2 separate regions of the Homo sapiens genome follow, and region 1 is linked to region 2. Evidence: fine-mapped QTL for protein levels in blood plasma. A gene starts in region 2. The other region holds a variant in brackets. All regions are shown on one strand. Distances are from middle to middle. Region 1 overlaps ASAH1 (N-acylsphingosine amidohydrolase 1). Region 2 holds the start of ASAH1 (N-acylsphingosine amidohydrolase 1).

What was found. PIP is the posterior inclusion probability: the model's chance that the variant is causal. Protein levels are from antibody-based Olink assays in UK Biobank. Linkage for the fine-mapping came from a reference panel and not from the study's own genotypes, which makes the PIPs less certain.
Region 1: its variant is fine-mapped to the plasma level of the ASAH1 protein (UK Biobank, PIP above 0.99). The variant lies in the coding sequence of ASAH1. If it changes the protein, the assay may bind it differently, which can mimic a change of level.

What each region holds. Positions count from the first base shown.
Region 1 is chr8:18,065,658-18,068,605 of GRCh38, reverse strand. It overlaps ASAH1 (N-acylsphingosine amidohydrolase 1), which reads left to right. Exons shown (of 14, transcript NM_177924.5): 5 at 1,308-1,386. Among named protein-coding and RNA genes, the nearest start is that of ASAH1, 17 kb to the left of the region's middle. The variant T/A (reference allele first, on the strand shown) is at 1,376.
Region 2 is chr8:18,081,684-18,084,517 of GRCh38, reverse strand. ASAH1 (N-acylsphingosine amidohydrolase 1) reads left to right here and starts at 411. Exons shown (of 14, transcript NM_177924.5): 1 at 411-537. The coding sequence starts at 460. RefSeq lists enhancers at 1-44, 845-954 and a silencer at 295-494.

The sequences.
Region 1 (2,948 bases), 16 kb after region 2:
AAAAATGTCCTTAGATGTTACCAAATCTCCCGTGGTCGAGAATCATTGCCCTAGCGGCTGAGTGCTGTGGCCACATCCTCCCTATGACACTTGTACCTGCCAAGCACCAAACCCATTATCCCTCACGTGCATGCTCTCGGAGCTTTTGTTTCAGGCTATCCTTTATGTTCATACTTACCGGACTTCCTCAAAACAAAAAAATGCTGGCAGGAGCAAAAGAGGATGAGGCCCCCACGTTCCCCGTATGCCTTAATCTCCCCTCTACTCTGAATGTTATCAGGGAGGGCAACATTGCAGAGAGTTTTTGTGCCACGCCTTGGAATCGGACAATACTGGGTTTTAAGGCTGGATCAGTCACATACTAGCCTTGTGTCCTAGGGAAAGTTTCTTAACCTATGAAACCTCAGTTTTCTCATCAGGGAGAATAATAATTACTAATATATATTTCATATGGTGGTTGTAAGGGTTAAATGACATACTGTGTATAAAGCATAGTGCTTGGATGTAATAAGTGTTTAATAAATACCCATTACGTCACATTTGTTTGTTAAATGGCTGGAACATTCCACTTGGGGAATGCTTTGAGTTCCTAGGGAGAAAAAAAATATGTTTAGGTGACATTACATGTAATTACCAAGTTGGTTAAAAAAGTGAGATTCGTGAATTTTAAGCAGATTATCTCAGCAAAAGGCCGTGAACTTAAGTTGTGATCTGGATGTTAGTAGTTGCCATTGAGAATAAATATATGATGTCCACCACTGAATTTGCTCAATGTCTCTGGTTTGCTAAAAGAATGCAGTTACTTCATCTTAGCTGAAGATCAGCCATTAACCATGACACAGGGCTATGGATAGAATAGTGCAGGTTTATCTCTGTGAGTGTGGGAAGGAAATGGTAAGAACGGTATATGCCAGTGGCTAGAGGGTGAATTCGTGCAGAGAGATAAGGAGTGCTTGTTATGATGTTTTTGTGGTGTGGGTCAGGTTAGGTCATCCAAGTGGAATTACTCTCGTTCCTGCCTTCTCTGGAGAATGATGGAAAAATAAGGCAGGAAAAACAATCTGAGAATCTGGTCTCTGTATAGGGGCCCAATATTCAGTATTACATAGAATCTTTTTATAACTACATGATGTAAAAATGCTTTAAAAAATAATTCCTATCACTTATTATGATAGCAGTATCTAGAAAAAATTATATGTCCAAGAACTAGATTTCAAAGCATGCTTTTATTATATTTGTTTATATTATATTATATATTTTTTATTGTTATTATGTTAAATGCTTTTATTAATATATTTGTTTTCCAGCCTGGCCTACTTGGCAACTTTCCTGGCCCTTTTGAAGAGGAAATGAAGGGTATTGCCGCTGTTACTGA[T/A]ATACCTTTAGGTAAAGTTCACTTAGAAGCTTTAAAAAAAAAAGTAATTAAATTCTTTTACAAGTTTCCATTGAGGTGTGATATACATACAGCACAGGTGCTGTATGTCTTAGATATACAGCACAGGTGCACAGGTCTTAGATATACAGCTCAGTGAAGCTTCAGAAATGCATGCATGCATGTAGCCATGACTCAGATCAAGATACGGAAGAGCCCAGCACTCCACGATGCTCCATCATGCCCCTTTGCAGAAAATACTGCCTCCTCCAGTAAACACTATTCTGATGTCACTATAGATTAGTTTTGCCTCTTCGTGAACTTTGTATAAATAGAACTGAACAATATGAACTGTCCTGTGTGATTTCTTGTATTTCATTATGGGTGGTGTGCTATTGTATCAACAGGGTATTTGGGTGGTTTTCAGATTTGTGATATTAACAATAAAGGAATTATAAATATTGTAGTACATTTTGGGGGTGTCTGGGTACTCATTTTCTGGATATATACCTAGGAAGTGAACTGTTGTGTTATAGAGTAATTGTGTGTTTAGCCTTATAGATTCTGCCAAACAGTTTTCCAAAGTGATTCCAGCAGTTGACAATCAGCAGAGTATGAGAGTTTCAGTTTTCTCCTCTTGATAATTCTCCTCTCGATAGTGTCAGTCTTTTTTTTTCCTTTTTTTTTGTTAGTGTCAATCTTTATTTGAGCCTTTTTGTTGAGTGTCGCAGTATCGCATTTTAGTTTCAATTTGCATTTCCTTGATGATTAATGAGATTGAACAGTTTATTGACTTTTTTTTTTTTTTTTTGGTTTTCTTTGTTTCTTTTGGAGAAGGGCTTGTGAAGGTCTTTTGCCCTTTTAAAAATTAGATTGAAGGAATTTTTTACATACTTTGAATATAAGCCCTTTGTCAGATATATGGATTCTGAATATCTGCTCCCAGTCTATGACCTTCATTTTTATTCTCTTACTTTTGTCTTTTGATGAACAGAAATTTTTAATTTTAGTGAAGTCTAATATCTCAGTCTTCTCTTTTATGAGTAGTGCCTTTTGTATCCATTTAAGGAATCTTGGCCTACCCCAAAGTCATATATATATGCTTATATATTTTCTTCTAGATGTTTAATGTTTACTTTTTACATTTAGGCCTATCATCTATTTTGAATTATTTTTGTATATGCTATGACTTATGGGTCAAGCTTCAGGTTTTTCTCATGTGGTATATCCAGTTAGTTAAACAGCATCAATTCAAAAGGCTATCCTTTCCTCAGCAAATTGCAGTGGTGTCTTTGATATAAATATACAATACATATATATATACACACACACACACACACACACACACACAATGTGTATCTGTATATACAATCAGGTGATTGTATATATGTTGTTTTGTTTGGGGAATTAAGTTTCATTTACATATTTGTCTTTTTGTCTTCCCTTATATCAATACTATTTCACCTCAGTTACTAAAGCTTTATAGTAAGTCTTCAAATTAGGTGGTATAATTCTTCCAACTTTGTTTTTCTCAATATTTATTTAAGTTACTGATTTCTCTGAGCAGTATCTTTTA
Region 2 (2,834 bases):
GTTACATTAGTGTTGAGACTCTTTGGATCCGTTTCGTGGGTACCGAGGACGCCTGGGTACGCGGGACAGGCTGCACCCGCCTGCTAGAGGCGCCCCATCGAGGCGCCACGGGTGAAGCTCCCGGCCCCACCTACGGGGCGGGGCTCCGGCTCGGTCCGACTATTGCCCGCGGTGGGGGAGGGGGATGGATCACGCCACGCGCCAAAGGCGATCGCGACTCTCCTTCTGCAGGTAGCCTGGAAGGCTCTCTCTCTTTCTCTACGCCACCCTTTTCGTGGCACTGAAAAGCCCCGTCCTCTCCTCCCAGTCCCGCCTCCTCCGAGCGTTCCCCCTACTGCCTGGAATGGTGCGGTCCCAGGTCGCGGGTCACGCGGCGGAGGGGGCGTGGCCTGCCCCCGGCCCAGCCGGCTCTTCTTTGCCTCTGCTGGAGTCCGGGGAGTGGCGTTGGCTGCTAGAGCGATGCCGGGCCGGAGTTGCGTCGCCTTAGTCCTCCTGGCTGCCGCCGTCAGCTGTGCCGTCGCGCAGCACGCGCCGCCGGTGAGTGAGCTTGAGCCGAGGCGCAGAGAGGGGCGTGCAGGTGCGGGCGCGGATGGAGGCGCAGGTGTGGCGGCGCGAGCGGGTACAAGGAACACCTCGTGCTGGGCAGCTTCTTTACGGGGGTCTGTGGTTTCGTGCACAGGGGTGTGGGTGCAGAGCGGGCTGGCGAACCCCGTCCTCGGTAGATTCGGTGCTACCTGCAACTAGAACTCCTTTAAAGGAAATCCTAGTCTCTGCAGGATACCTGGGTGTGATTCGCACATTCTTAGATTTGAGTGAGTGTACTTGAATAACCAGTTCCAGGCCCTTGCATTTTGAAGTGTTTAAATAAAATGTTCCGGTGGACCTGTGTGCATTACTCAATCAAGGACAGACTGCCTGATGGTCAGGTGCTTTCTCCCGAAGAAGTTCAGGAGTTCAGCCCAGGATACTGCAGGGCCGTGGGAAACGCTGAGTGGTCCCAAGCTTGGGCGGTGCGAGCAGCCCAGAGCAGGCCCCAAAGGGCCCCCTGTGGCCTTTTGCACCCAAGTCATGGGATCGCCTGTCCCGTGGCTCTTTCCCACGAGCAAGTCACAGGGCTACGGACTTCCTAACTGCAAGAGACAGTGAGGGACGAGCGTGACTCTTTCATTTTACAGAAGAGGAAGTAGACCTAGAGTGAGAAAATATTTAGCCAGAGGTTACACTGTTGTTTACTGAACATGCGTAACGTCCGAGCCTCTTGACGCCCAGTACTCTTTCATAATTCATTTCTTTATAAAGCAATCAGACTGCGTTTGTCTTTGCCAACAGAATCGGATAAGTAGGAACCTGGCGCATCTGGCCTGAGGCTAGATGGTGATGGTCTTGAATAGTTTAGGTAGGTTATTGAAAGTGGAAGCAAGATGTGCATTGTCTTCTTTTATACCTGTAAGGAGAAATTCTTTAAAATCATGGTGGGATATGATTTAGCCATTAAAATTGATATAATGTTCAGCAGATAAAAGTAGAATCCAGAATAGTATATACAGTTTTTCCTGTAATAGGAAAATACACAGAACATGTATGTGGACACGATTAAAGGCCTTAAAATAAAATTGCTCCATTGTGGGTAGGGAATTAATTTGCTTGACGGTAGTTGGTTTTATGGGAATTGGGAGAGACTTTGATACTTTGATACTGTCAGGGCCCTTCATTGAAAGACCACCAGGAACACACCATAAGCTGAACAAATTGGGTTTAGTGTTCTTTGAGGCAAAGGAGACCACACACCATGAGCGACGGACGGTAGGTTATAGAAAAAAACCCATTACAGAATTTGAACTTCGGTTGCATGATTTGGGGTAAGACTGAGGAACCGGGCTTTGCTGTAGATAGAATGCTGTTAGAAGGTGGGGCAATTCTGACTGAGTAAAGAAGGAACAGCCATTCTGTTTAGCACGAGAAGGGGATGTTTGGTGTTTTGTGCGTTGCAGGTGCCCTTGTTTTTGTCTGTTCTTAGAGAAAATCTTCAAGTGGCATTGCTTTGTCTTGGTGTGTCATGTCTCAGAATAATCTTATCCGACGTAGGTATCTGTGGGATTGTTGATGTCCAGGAGGAAAACAGAGCTTACCTGGCTGTGAGTGTCAGATCGGCTTGTAATAATATTGAGAGATAGCTGTGGGACTCAGAGCAGTTTCAGGTGTTGGAGGCTGTTTTTTCTTCTTTCTCAATAGCTTTATTTATTCTAGCAAAAGTATTTTGATAGCTATTTTCAGAAGAAGAATTAACAACCTCTCAATGGATATAATAGTTCTTATCTAGAACAGCGATTATCAAAGTCTAGTCTGGCCACTGGTGTCACTTTGGGAAGCTGTTTTCACAGGTTTTCAATGAAACTGGAAAAATAAGAATGCAAAACTAAAATTATTAATTTAGAATGTTAATCTTTACTCTGATTGTATGGACTTCAAGTTTTCATTGTTGCAAACGTGTTCTTAAAAATAACGGCAGAGGTAGATGTTATGTGCATGGAATTTGTTTTGTTTTAACATCTCCATTTGGCAGAATAAAAATTTGGACCCTCCTGTGCCAAGGCCTCATTAATTTTTTTTTACTGGCCTGGAAAATCCTGGGATCCATGCACTGAAGGACCTTTAGAACCTTACAGAAGTTTAGTGACTTCATTCTCTGAGAAGAATAAGCAGTTTTTCAACTGGAGTCATTATATGATAAACTATAGCCTCATGGTAACAAAAGATATTTCAAAAGTACTTTCAATAAATATGAATAATGAGAAGCAGCTTTAAATTGGAAACAAGTCATTTGATTTAGAACA